Linked DNA regions of Homo sapiens. The protein of the gene in region 1 purifies or fractionates together with the protein of each later gene. This does not show direct contact. Each region holds a gene or a part of one and is shown in the gene's direction. Other genes may lie near its edges.

Region 1 (4,268 bases):
TTTGGCATTTACATCCACTTCAAATGTTAAAAAACTTATTTTTAATGTTTTAGGTTTAAGCAGCTTGTAATTTATTGATCTACATGGCATTAATTGATTTAACCATTATACCTGAAATAATTCTTCAGTGTTTGCCTTTGAGCAGTGATAGGTTGTGTATTTTTTAATTGCCTAAGAGCATATATACCAAACACTACAAACAATTCATATTTACAGAAAATTTAAACTATTTTATAAAAACTGCACATTACATTTTTGGTGAAATATAGTGCATTCTGAGGATAGCATATTTCATATAATAGAAAAAGAAGCATTCTCTAGGTTTGCATGTAGCTATAGTCACTATATTTTGCCTTTCATATAGAAAGTTTTAAAGTATTATGTTTAAAAACATTTATTGGCTGGGTGTGGTGGCTCACACCCAGCACTTTGGGAGGCCGAGGCAGGCGGATCACTTGAGGTCAGCAGTTCAAGACTAGCCTGGCCAACATGGTGAAACCCCATCTCTACTAAAAATATAAAAATTAGCCAGGCGTGGTGGCGGGCGCCTGTAATCCAAGCTACTGGGGAGGCTGAGGCAGGAGAATTGCTTAAATCCAGGAGGCGGAGGTTGCAGTGAGCCAAGATTGTGCCACTGCACTCCAGCCTGGGTGACAGAGTAAGACTCCGTCTCAAATAAATAAATAAATAAATAAATAAATAAATAAATAAATAAAACCATTTATTGATGTTGCTCATTTATTTGGAACGTTTTTAGTTTTTCTCAGAAATTGTCCCATTGCATTAGCACTTACTGTGTTTTCAGGTTGATATCTACCAAAGGACACAAATTGAATGGTAGACTGTAAAACTGGTATAAACAGAATGCAGTTTCCCGACCATCAGAACCCAAATATTAAGAAGCATATAGGAATCCATCTATGCATGAAACATGTAAAAAATATGTTGGTTAGTTTAATTAAAAATCTTATTGTGGGTCCAGTGAGACCATCTCATCCAAAAGATTTTTTTTCCCCCAATGATGTTTGCTTTAGAAGCAAGATAGAAAGGAAAAAAAGTATTAGGTAGATATGTATAGTAGGGACAGAGGGAAATCTTTCTTCTTTCCTTTCTGAAAGTAATACTTCTTGTTACACATTTTATTTATTGAGTTTGTTCTAAATAAAATATTATAAACTTCAGACTTGAAAAAATTCCACTTAACTTTAAAGTTACAATGTTTGTATTTGGGATTTTAAATGCCTTTGAGATTAAAATGTAGAATTGCAGGACCCAAAAACTTTTAAAATAATTAAAATTTTAAAAGAGCACATGTTGTGTTTTTTGGGCTTGCTATTAATGCAAACTCTGATTGCAAATGGATGTCATGTTTCATACCTTTTTTATCAGGAAAAAAGCAGCAAGCCTTCAGGTGTTCCAGTGATGCCTGACACAATTGAGCTGGACTTTATGCTGCTCTTTACAGTAAGAGGTGTTGCATTGTATGTGGGGACTATGTGCACTGGCGTCTAAGACAGTGACCTCAACAATATTAGCTTTGCACAAACCATAGAGAACGATGTTGGATGGTTACATAATCAGTTATAACATTCTGGCAGCTAAATTGCTACAAGAGCTTTTTCTTGCAAAAGCTTAAAATACAAGATTTTTAATAATTTACTCAGAACAGTATAACTTCTGACACACACAAATGCTTGCCTCTTTATTCATATGTTCGTTACCTACTCTGTACATGTATCTGTCATTTAGCTGTTTCTCAAGATGATGTTCAGCAGTTGGCTGCTTAGAAATCTTTTTCAAGCCAGTTTCTAAAGACATTTGTTTAATGTTCTACCATAGAATAATGCACACCATTGTCAAAGATTTGATTATTGTGTTTTATAGTAAGTCCATTTGACATTTATTTCCCTTTCAGTTTATTTTCCTTCCTTATTTTGTTATACATACCCTTCCCTTTCTCCCCTGCCTTTCGTACATTCATTCCTCTTCCTCTACCCTCCAGCACATCTACTTACTGGTGCTGTGCTGTGTGTCAGAAGATAAAACAGGTGTATTATTGTATAATGAATTTTGTATACATGTTTATGAAATGGTGAGATCAACTAAAGGAGGCATGTTCATAACAGTGTTTATTATCAGCAGCTATGTCCCAGGAAAAAAAAATGGGAGGGGCAAATGGCTACAGTTGTAAATGGATAACATCATTTAGAAAGCCGAATTTACTGTTCATCTGAGCGGTTACCTGGAGTATTATATCTATGCACTGGTGAGCATCTCCTGATTCCACTTACTTTTCTCCCTGTGAACAGTTTACCGGTGCCATGCTGAAGAGAAAGACATCTAAGTGATAACATGAATGAAGTCTTAAAATTTAAAGTATTTTTACTGCTATATAAACTAAAGACTACATTGTGCATATTTTGTTAACACTGTCTCTTGTTATGATAAACACTGAAATAGCATGTTAAACAGTTGCCTATACTTTAATATAATCAGTTGGGGAAAACTGGCCTTTTCTCCCCCACTGTATGATTGTTTCTTGAAAGGTAAATTGCTAATTTTATACAGTGTAATTCTGTTCTTCACAAAATAGGTTTCATTATTCTATATTTAAACTGTTGGTCAGAAAATGATCTGCAATTCAAGTAAGTCTGCATTACTTTTTTCTTTAAAAAGTACTTTAACATGCCTTATTTATTATATTAGCAAATGAGCTAATAACAGATGAAATTTTCATTTTTTGACAGATATAACCTTGCATAAGTAGTATTTAGGGTGATTTTGATACTATCTTTAGAGTTTTGCATTGGATATTAAAAAATATATTGGCACAATGTATTGGAAGAAAATGAGTAGTATCTGGTTTAATTTTTAATATTTAGGGACATTTTAAAAAATCAATGTTTTAATTAGACTAAAAATTCTTTATATTTTTTATTTACTTTTTAAAGAAACATCTGTCAAAGTAATATTGATTCCAAACTGATGTTTGTGTGAATTTACATGTCTATTTTCATGAACTAAGAATAGAGTTTCTTTGAGTTGAGGAGAAAAAAATATATATGTGGGTCCATTTATTAGGTTAAAGTTGACCCATTCAGTGTAAAAATAACCATAGTGTGTGAGCTAAAGAAAAAAAAAAGTAAATTTCTCCTTTATATTCTAAGAAGCTTTAAAAGAACAATTCAGGGGTTATTGATAACTGCTACTCTGTCGGTCATTGTCTCTATATGCAGTAAAATTTTATGGTCCCTTTATAGGAATATAAAGAATTCAAAACAGTTTTTCAAAAGATTTTTTTCCTTGGACATAAAAAATTTTGATGCTATTCTATTTTTGTTTTTATTACAGCTTAACTGTATGCTGTTAAACTCTAGGATGTATCTGAATCTTTCCTTTTTTCCCCCCTCCTCCAAATATATAAATCTGTGCTCTCACATGTAATGTATTTAATTTTTGGAAAATTTAATGCTATATAGTAAATCAAGTGTGTGATTTAAAGTAATCAGATCACTTTGATTCTTTTAAGTTTTCAGAATTTCTTTTTTCCACAGGTAATTTTGGAGAAAATAATTACCAATTAACTGATAATAAGCACGCTGTCCTCTGCTGTAAAAAGTCTGAATAGATACTGTGTATGTTTTTATGTCCATGAACTTGAGCTACTCGTGTGCAATTATGTGTATGGGAATGGAGTAGTGTTCATGATTTGTATCTACATCATCATATGGATGTATATTTATTAATAAAGTCATTACTTTAAAACCAGCTATGTTTACTATGTTTTTTAGTGTGGTACTTTTCAAGTACTTAAGTGGTAAATGGTAAACCTTTTTCATGACTGTAGATCTTGTGTTTTTCTTAGAATTTTGCTTTTTTTTTTTTCTTTTTTAAGACAGGGTCTCACTCTGTCACCCAGGCTGGAGTTCGGTGGCGTGATCATAGCTCACAGCAGCCTTAACCTTCTCGGCTCAAGCAGTCCTCCTACCTTCCCACCTCAGCCTCCCGAGTAGTTGGGACTACAGGTACCTGCCACCATGCCCAGCTAATTTTTTATTTTTTTATTTTTATTTTTATTTTTTTTGGAGACAGAGTCTCACTCTGTCTCCTAGGCTGGAGTGCAGTGGCGCGATCTCCGCTCACTGCAAACTCCGCCTCCCAGGTTCACGCCATTCTCCTGCCTCAGCCTCCTGAGTAGCCTGGATTACAGGCGCCCGCCACCACGCCTTAATTTTTTAATTTTTGTAGAGATGGGGTACCCTATGTTG
Region 2 (2,664 bases), about 80 Mb from region 1:
CTACACTGTTAACTGATTGAGACTCCACTGTGATTCACTTGTTTACTTAAAAACTTTTCAGGGATGTCTGTAAATTTCAGTGTTAATATGTCATGAAAAGTGGTGTGGATTGATCTAAGGAGGGACCAGAAATAATTTTTGCTATTCCAAATACTGAAGGAAAAAGATAATTGATTTATACTATGTTTTAAAAAAAAAAAAGGTATTGATGAGCCCCCCCCCCCCAGGACATTTAACCTTAAAATTTATTTTAAATGTATTCTTTTATTATTATAAGGGAAATACAGATGGCTGATAAATACCAAAAAGATTCAAAAGCAGCTTAATTTAAAAAGCACAAAGAGATTCTGGCTTACAGTGCCCCAATCTCAATGTTTTTATAGTTGCTGAGCTAACTAATGTGATTATTGAGTTTACAGATTTAAAAATTGTCACTGTTAGAGTATCTACTGTTTTTATGAAGTCAAACTTATGCTGCCTCAGAAATCCCTGGGTACTGAAATGGTAACATGGAAGTGAAGAGGTCACTTTGAAATATTGGTGAGTCACAAAGATTAAAGAAAAGGATCAGTTTGCAGATACTCAGAAAAGGTTATTGAAATAATTACTGAACAGCACATTTTCTCTCTAAAAAGTAGTTTCATATGGGTTGTATTTTTAAGATCAGATTATCATTTTGATATTTGGTCAAAATTTTGTACCTTAGGTTACTTAGAGCCAGATTTAACATCATGAACATTATGTGGCTTTGTCTTTACTACAGATATGTGGAACTGTAACCAAATATGTTGTCTCTAAAACTTGTTGATTGCAAAATACAGTTCTATAAACAAAACCCATATGTATATATAAATGTTAATTTTGCGGAAGTCTGGAAATTATAACTATAGCATTTAAGTTTGAGTCTGTATTGGACAAATAAGCACCATGCTTTTCAAATGATTTAAAAATTACTTTTATTTGCCTCTTTATTTTGATGGTGGTTGGATTTTTTTTTTTTTAATAGTAAAATCACTAAACTTGTGCAATGGTAGCATGGAAATTATCTGAGGTATATTGTATGATTGTACTTTAGCCAGGGTGGACATAGCTTAAATTATAAAAACTAAAGATGAAAGTACAAGGAAGTATAAGTTATACTTATGTAAGTATAAATTCATGCTGCCTACTTCTAAGAGAAATTTCATTCTTCATAACCACATAACATTATAATGCCACTGATTCATACGGGATTTACATTAATTCTATGGGGGAGGACACTAGAATTATTAGTGTTCATTTTCATCTAAGATCTTTATTCTCTAACGTTCTTGGTCCTATTGAAACATTGCAGTATGCAAAACTACTGCAATGTTAAACCCAAGAGAAAAGCCATTATCATGTGTATGCTGGTCATCATGATCAGTGTGGTACAATTTTTAAAAATAAACTATCATGCCCTTCATGCCATTATTTGTCTTTATTTCTATGATTTATAATCCTGATATGTGATGTGTTTGTAACACAGGGTGTGCACTTGAGCCTGGTTTTACTGTTTTTATTAGACAGAGTTGTTTATATGCTGTAACTGTAACGCAGCGAGACTGGTTCTACAGCCATGTGTCGTAATCTTGTTCCCCGTCCAAGCTGTTGTATCTGAAGGTACCCAGTTTGCACCCAGGATGAGGGAACGCATTCAAAAGTGAAATGTAAAGCCAGTGCACGAATATTATAGTAATTGAGATTTTCCCAGGCTTCACTGATACAGTTGTTTTGCATTTATTCACAATAATACAGCAGATTCTTAAATGCCGATTTTTAATTGTCTTAAATTTTGCTGCTGTTCTCATAATTAAGGACTTGAAAAATGTTTTAGTCTGTCAAGTATGTAAAGTTTGTGTAAAAACTTTTAAATGTCATTCTTAAGTTCATTGCCATAGCCATTTTCCATTTATGTCTTCATTTTCCAAAAATCAAATGCCATGTCTGATACCTTTAAGTCCATAAGCATTCAATTTTCTCATTTCCACCTTCATCTTTGGTTAACAGAATAAGTAAAACAGGGTATTATTTATTTGTAGTCTAGAAATGTTGAATATTGTTTTATTTCCTTCAAAATGTTATGATTAGTGCAGATCAGCCATGTTTATCTTTTTAAAAAATAAACAGGTTGCTTTATTTCTTAGCTTCAATGGAATATAATTATTTTTTCTCCACTCATCAAGGAGGCATTTATTTAATGTGAAGAATTACACAGAAAAATAGAAGAGCATGTTCTGTCTTGAGCTTCATCTGCAGTTACCATAGAAATTATTCATCAAACACTGTAGCTAATTTGATTAATTTAAAACCATCATCATTCAGATAGTCCCATGGAGTATCTGCTTCCATTAGTGACATCAGGAATTAAGCACATAGCAGTAAGTTGTGAGTGAGAGGTTTTGAAATAATAGCTCCCATGAGTCCAATACCTGAGACAGAAGCAGGTGCTTAAGTAAAGTACTTGACATACTGTCTGTTGGTTGCCATAAATAGGCGAACTCCAACACACATAAGCCAAAATATAATAGCTACGGGACCTGGCATATCTTGCAAGGGGCCAAAGTCCCATTTGGCAAAGCTTGCCCTCTTTGTGGGGCTTTGTAGTCTTGTATCTGCTTATCTTTACAGATTTGTTTTACATAT
Region 3 (3,500 bases), on another chromosome or scaffold:
AAAACATAAATTTCAAAGTGAAACTAGATATGCAGTGATCCTGAAATACACCCAAAAGTGTCCTTCCTCCTCCAGTTTACCTCTTTTTCTGTAGACATCAGTGTTTACAATAAATAAAGCATTTTCTTATTGAATTTTTTTCTTTTTTGTTTAATATTGTGGTGGTACAGACTGATTTTTTTTTAAAAAAGAAAGGCTTGGCATTTCTGCTGTAGTATAAACTGTATAAGCCTTTCAGTGCTATCCTTATAAGATGTTTTAAGTTTGTTAATGCGTTTAAAAAATTAAGTATAGTTTTGCAACAGTTTTCTTTATCTGCCGTCGTTGGGAGTTAAATATCAATGATATGTAAGCTGTGGTACATGTGGGATCAACTCCCCCTTCCCTCACCAGATTCATAGTTTGTTTTGTAATTATATAAAAACATCGACATTTTAGTTCAAAATCATATCTGGAATGTGGGATATAAAACTTTCCTTCCCCGGGCAGGAATTATGGGGGTAAAACTTGAATTTAACTGTGTCTCCACTTGTGTCTGGCAGAGGTCTTGGTATGAAGGGAGCAGAGGTACCAGATCAAGCCAAGACACCTGCTGCGAACCACATGAAGGAAATAAATTAACAAATGAAAGTAAATTAGGTTTATTGTGTCTGCTGGCTTTAACATTTAAACCCTAGAATTCAAGGGGATAATCATTTGTATGCTACAGTTTTTCCTTATGTAGATAACACTAAGCTTTACACAAAATAGTCAGTGAAATCTGGTAGATTGAATTATATTGATCCTAAGGTCTATAGTGAAATACAGCTAAGAATCTCAGTCCACATTAAAGTTATGTAACTTCTAAAAATTTGCAATTAATCTATCACACGAAAGCACCTATATGGACATTTAAAGATCTGTGTATCTTGATGGCATCAAGCCAGCTTTCACATTGATAAACGCTAGGGGCATTTCTCCTGAAATGTTAGGTATATTTTAGTGTCATAACTGAAGATGTAAGCAAATTTAAAATGCTTGCTCTAAATTAAAAGGGTTCTAGCTTAAATGAGCAGCTCCTTTATAGGAAGATTTTTGTCACAGTGGTTTCGCTAAATTTCAGTTATATTAAACAAGAGAATCGCATTTTATGTAGTTGTCCTTTTGAAGCTCTTACTTCAGATCTTTTTACTGATGTTGCCAAATTATTATAGGATAAGACCAATTAGCTTACCTCTTCACCTCTCCCATAAAGCCTTTTTTTTCTTCTGCAATGTTTCTGAAGGATGAAATGTGAACTTTCTCATCTTCTCTTAAACTACTCTAGGTATCAAACTGGTTTGGAAATAAGCGAATCCGGTACAAGAAGAACATAGGTAAATTTCAAGAGGAAGCCAATATTTATGCTGCCAAAACAGCTGTCACTGCTACCAATGTGTCAGCCCATGGAAGCCAAGCTAACTCGCCCTCAACTCCCAACTCGGCTGGTTAGTTTTTTCTTTGATTGGGGGTGGGGGAAGGAATTGTTCTCCATTTTTATACTGGCTGTTCCTACATTGGGATTTTCTTTTAATTTGTTAGGCTTTTGATTGGTTAATTTCTGTATTTGATTGTATTTTTGGATGTTAATGTCACTTTGGGCTCTTTCTTTCATTTCCAAAGAGCAATCTGTTAGACTTTTTACAACGTGGGTTGTCTGGAGGTTTGCATTAATTTGTCTATTAAGTTAAGACCAAAGTAAATTGGTTAGCTTGAAGAGACCTCTAAATTCTCCTCTCAGGGATATCAATAAGTAAGTTAGACATAGTGCTTAGAGATAGTCTATTGGGATTCTGTCATTTGGCCTGTTTTATATAAAGCTTTTATCCTTGTCAGTTTTGCTGTTCCAACAACATAATGTCTGGGTCACTTATTAGCATGCATTCTATGCAGAAATATTTACTCTTCTAGCAAATATCTTATTAGAATGCTTTGGTATGCAAAGCCAGGCTATGAATATTTCTATATATTGTTTATAGTTGTTGTTCTTTATTGTTTTTTGTTGGTCTTCTTTATGATTATCGGTCATGAGCTATGTAATAGGCTTTGTTTCAGGAAATATGCATTATATCACTAATTTAAGAGTTTAGGTCAAAATACTATATTTTGGGGTGTGCCTTGTGTCATCAGTTCAGAATTTCTACATGTGAAAAAATGTAGTTAATAATGCAAAAAATATAACCTTTGTGTTTGTATGCTATGGAAGGCATGTGGTAATTTTTTTTTCCCTTTGGTAAAGGAAAGACAAGTATTTTCTCATTAAATAAGTTTGGTTTGACTTTGATTAGGGTGCACAGCTAAGAAAACTGATGATTCTAACTTAAAAGGTTACCAATTTAAATATGTTTGATCGTAATATGATTACAAACCTAATGTCTAACATTTTTTAGAGTATGTGGTATCTTTGACCACAAAGCTTGTTTGTCCACTAAAATAAGTTTTCTTACAGCGACTCGTTACTGGAGAAATGTAGGGTTCCACAGACTGATGTCTTCTGTGAGCTTCCAGATGCATAAATTTGTTATGATAAGGTCCTCCAAGTCACTGGGCTATACCCAGCACTTCTTTTGTGGCCTTCTTTTATCTAAATGGAATCATGCATGAAGAGTAGCCTGGGCTTTTTCAACATGGATATAATAAAACAATGTAGAATTCAATCCAGTTTTAATTTTCCCAGCACTGCAGGTTAGATTCCTATGAGGAGCATATTTACTTTTTTAGAAATATTTTGTTTTTTTCTTCCTCCATCATGGTGTGATTGACAAGGGATCAAAGCTAACAGGTTCAATAACCAGAGAGAGTTCCATCTTCTCCATCTGGTCAATTATTAAGAATTTCAGACCCAACAACACCAGTTGAACTGTGCTGCTAGGCAGACATTTTCACTTGTCTCTTTGGAAGAAGTACAATTCTGTCAACATTAGCAAAAATGCACTCAACACTCCTGCAAAGGTTATCATAATGCAAAACGATATCAAAATGACTTTTTCCTGTCCCTGGTATATCTGCATCGCAGATGGCTTAGCATGATTTATGACTAGTCCTTAGAAAAGCCCTGTGGACTTTCTTCATTACTAAATTTGTAACTATTTATTCTTTCCTAAAGCCCTTAAAAGAGAAAAATAAGCATTTTAACCCTCTATTCTGTGTTTAAGAAATATGGTTGCCTCTTATGGAATGTCAGACTATGATTACAGTTTTCTAAGGAATTTTTTTCTGGTGGCTTAAACATCATGTGACTATTCTGAGCACAAAGTAAATTATTATGGAAAATTTGAGCTAAGCCTTCCAATTGTGCGTAAGTTGTTGGAAATAATCTGCACAGGAACCCCTTTGTAGTGCTTTTTCTAAAGTAGAGGCAAAAGAAAATACTATTGTATGTGTGCAATAGCATGGAATTTTAAAAGATAAACATTTTAACAGGAAAAGTTATAAATGGGCTTTTCTGTATTTTCTTTTGCTCTTAACCAACCTAAATCATC
Region 4 (3,500 bases), on another chromosome or scaffold:
CTATGTCAAACTGCTTATATGATGGATTACCTACATTTCCCCATCCTAGTTTAACTAGTCTTAAGATAGATCACTTGTGGAAATAGTTGATATCTTAAATGAATCTTCTCACAAGTCAATGTCAATGACTGTGGGATTTGAATGCCCAGGCAGCCATAGCGCCACAGCTAATGACTGCCACCATGTTTAACTCCCCGGTAGGAGTTACACTTAACCTGTCTCAGCTATACATATTGGAATAATTACCATAGCAACAAAGCCACAAGGGGATTGGATATTTCCCTCCATTCCCTTTGACTTTTGGCAATGTTCTTTGGAAGAAGTTCTTTAGACCTGACTGCTCTTGAGCCTAGGCCTTGTTCTTTCTCTGTCTTGGAAAACAAAACACAACAAAAAAACAGTACCAAAGAAACTATTAATCATTTAAATTTGCTCTTTTGGTTTTGTTTATATCCAAAGGCATTCTATTTGAATAAAGCATGTCAAGGTAGCATCAGTCAAAATTTGATTCGCTATGTTTGCAGGTGATGGCTTGGACAACAGTGTAGCTTCCCCCAGCACAGGTGACGATGATGACCCTGATAAGGACAAAAAGCGTCACAAAAAGCGTGGCATCTTTCCCAAAGTAGCCACAAATATCATGAGGGCGTGGCTGTTCCAGCATCTAACAGTAAGTGGATTCTAAATGACATATATAAACTAAATATGGACAATGAACCAGTTTTTATACAAAAAAATGAGAAAAAAGTGATCCCTCTGGACTTGAAATATTTAATAAATAACTGTGTTCCCACAGTTTTTGCAAAAGTATTAGCACTTATTTCTTAGATAGATACCCCAAATGAGAAATTTTATTTAAAATTCACGATTGCGATTTTGTTAACTTTCATAAGTTAAAAGATTTAGGTGTTCATGTGCACTTGTGATTTTAAGTATGTGTTTTAATGATGTTGCTTTTCTAAGTGTGACCCTTAAGTGCTCAGAACCATCTCCTACTAAGAAGAAAGTTAGACAAACCCTAGAGAGAGACTTAATATCTTCTGATGCTTTAGTGGATCTTTACAACAAATGGTCCACAAAAATTTAAATCATGTTGCAATGGCAAGATGATCACATAATTTGCTTTTAAGTGGTTTGAATGCACTGGCTTCCATTACAAAACATTCATGTAAGTCAGAGCTCCACAGTGAAAGTTGTCCCTGTATTTAGAACTGTAAAGGAAAACAGCAATATAGAGTCAGCTCTTCCTGTGTAGTCCCTTGTGACTTTTCAAGCAGAGTAACAGTTTATATTGTCTGTGCCAGTATTGCTGTTTTCACTGCAGGAATTCTCCTGGAGATGTGAGAAACTGGAGATTTGGGGCTTTATGCCACTGGGGGATTTGTTTTGTTTGGTTATTGTTCTGAATGAATTTCATGTTCAAAATATTTATAATAATAATATTTTGGTGGATATTTTTGTAAGTGCATACCAATTTAAAGAAGAAGATACAATGAAGATTTGTGGATAAAATAATATTTTAAAAATCAACAAAATTGTTGACCAGAGGAATTTCAATATTAGAGACAAAGGATGAATTTAGACAGGTTGTAGCAAAGTTACATAGATGGATAAATGTTAAAAACTCTTGAGGGTTGTTTTTTAATATCAGGAGAAAATATTTTGTGTTACTATTTTTGTCTTAGCTTGCTTTTCCTAAAGTCAATTTTTCCTTAAATATTAAAGTTAATCTTGCATTGTCATAAACACTTGCAGAGCCTGTTTACCTTCATACCTGGGCCCACATTCAAAGCCATGTTCCTCAGTGAGTTTTACGGGTACAGAGATACAAACTCAGGGGATGTCTGCAGGTCATGTTAGTTCTGCTCCTCTGGATAGAGGCTGTGCCTCTAATAATACTCAAGGGTATAAATTAATCCAGATTTTCCAGCATCAGTGAATAAGATAAAAGCTGAGAGCAGCAGGAATAGCTAAAAAAAAAAAAAAGTTTCCTCCCTTCTCTTCTTCCCATAATAATTCCAAACAGTATCTAGACTACACTACAGTTTTTGAGTAAACTTCAGGGCTTGGCTATGCTGGAAATTAGTTGGAGATTTAGATTATTTGAGCTGTTTTGATTTTAACATCATATTAGGTTTACCTAGAATCTGATTCAGGCACCACTACTTATCTGACACCTGTTGCATGTGTGTAGATATTTCAATATCTGACTCCTGCAAATTCCCCACTGAGGATTATCAATCACTAATGAACTAGGGGAAAGAGGACTCAGGTCTTGAGGGCATATCATGAAAAACGAATGATATGACATTTAGATAAGAAGTGGCAATTGGTCAAAGGTGTGGTACAATGATGCTGATGCAATGATGCTAATATTTTATCTCCAGAAATAACCAGCTAACTCGCTGTGTGGAATGAGTTGGTGTGGTGGATAAAATCAGGTTGGCCCTGAAGTCACAATCAAATAATTTCTATTTCCTATAGACTAACAGAAACAATGAATAGATTTCTTCAGCCCCCATCTCAATCTGCAAAGGAGTTTTGGCTTTACTTGAAGCTGAGGTGCCCCTGAATAAAATATAATCAAATATTGGTTCAGACAGAATCAGGAGAGAGAGAAGCAAGCTATTTTATGCAGCCACTAGTTTTCCTGTTTTTCTAGGTTGTACCCTTGTGAAGACCCTTGCATAGAGCTACATTATCTTCTTGAAACAAACAAACAAACAAAAAACCCAAATAAACTTTCTAACAGCCCGCATGATTTTACATGCATTGCATTGCTTATATGGACTATGTGTTTGTTACTGGGGCAATTGTAATCGAAATTATTCATGAACTGCCTGATTTCTTGAGACCTAAATAATAGTCTTCAGTTTTGAGGTCTTTGCTGGCCTGTGCCACTGCCCTGGAAGGGGAAGCCCATTCATCCATGTTTCCCCAGCTTTCTGTGAATGTTTATAGGTGTTACCTTGTGGTTTCCATTGGATATTTCTACCTCCATTACCCACTCCAATGCCATCTGCTCATACAGAAATATTGATTAATGATAATGGTCTGTAGATAGCTAATTGTTCTTATAACATCATCTGAAGAGCAAAGTTAAGAGATATGTTTAAATTTTTCATCTTTTCCTTCCCCCAATGAAAAAGATTCCTTCCCACTTCTCTAATTGCAAGAGCAAATAGACCTCCAGCTATAAGGAACACCCGTTACCCTTGTTTTGTAATCCTTCTTGAAGGAATGCATGGACTGCTTAGGTAATATTTATAGTAAGGAGCTAATTTTAATAAATTCTATTTTAAAAACCTATAGAATCTAAAGAGAGTTTTGTTGTTGTTTGTCTAAATGTAAGTAACCACTGACATCTCAGTACTAATTCTTTAGTGACTTTATTTCAAGTTCTGGGAGGTCTTCAGGGATGCACAATTCATTAGGAAGACTGTACAAATTTTAAATGGTCACGTCATTGCTATGTGATTAATGCAACTTATCTAGGAAAT

What was found. The genes of interacting proteins can lie anywhere in the genome.
Region 2: the proteins of C5orf24 (region 1) and SNX18 purify together in Homo sapiens (affinity purification with mass spectrometry; one large-scale study listed by BioGRID and IntAct). This does not show direct contact.
Region 3: the proteins of C5orf24 (region 1) and PBX1 purify together in Homo sapiens (affinity purification with mass spectrometry; 2 studies listed by BioGRID and IntAct, with this or other methods). This does not show direct contact.
Region 4: the proteins of C5orf24 (region 1) and MEIS1 purify together in Homo sapiens (affinity purification with mass spectrometry; 2 studies listed by BioGRID and IntAct, with this or other methods). This does not show direct contact.

What each region holds. Positions count from the first base shown.
Region 1 is NC_000005.10:134,855,968-134,860,235, forward strand, and holds the end of C5orf24 (UPF0461 protein C5orf24), read left to right. Parts: 3' UTR 1-1,389; coding exon of another isoform or gene 1,390-1,430; 3' UTR 1,431-3,768; downstream 3,769-4,268.
Region 2 is NC_000005.10:54,544,423-54,547,086, forward strand, and holds the end of SNX18 (sorting nexin-18), read left to right. Parts: 3' UTR 1-2,164; downstream 2,165-2,664.
Region 3 is NC_000001.11:164,810,684-164,814,183, forward strand, and holds part of PBX1 (pre-B-cell leukemia transcription factor 1), read left to right. Parts: intron 1-1,306; coding exon 1,307-1,466; intron 1,467-3,500. UniProt on the Homo sapiens protein: Transcription factor which binds the DNA sequence 5'-TGATTGAT-3' as part of a heterodimer with HOX proteins such as HOXA1, HOXA5, HOXB7 and HOXB8. Binds to the DNA sequence 5'-TGATTGAC-3' in complex with a nuclear factor which is not a class I HOX protein.
Region 4 is NC_000002.12:66,511,625-66,515,124, forward strand, and holds part of MEIS1 (homeobox protein Meis1), read left to right. Parts: intron 1-524; coding exon 525-670; intron 671-3,500. UniProt on the Homo sapiens protein: Acts as a transcriptional regulator of PAX6. Acts as a transcriptional activator of PF4 in complex with PBX1 or PBX2. Required for hematopoiesis, megakaryocyte lineage development and vascular patterning.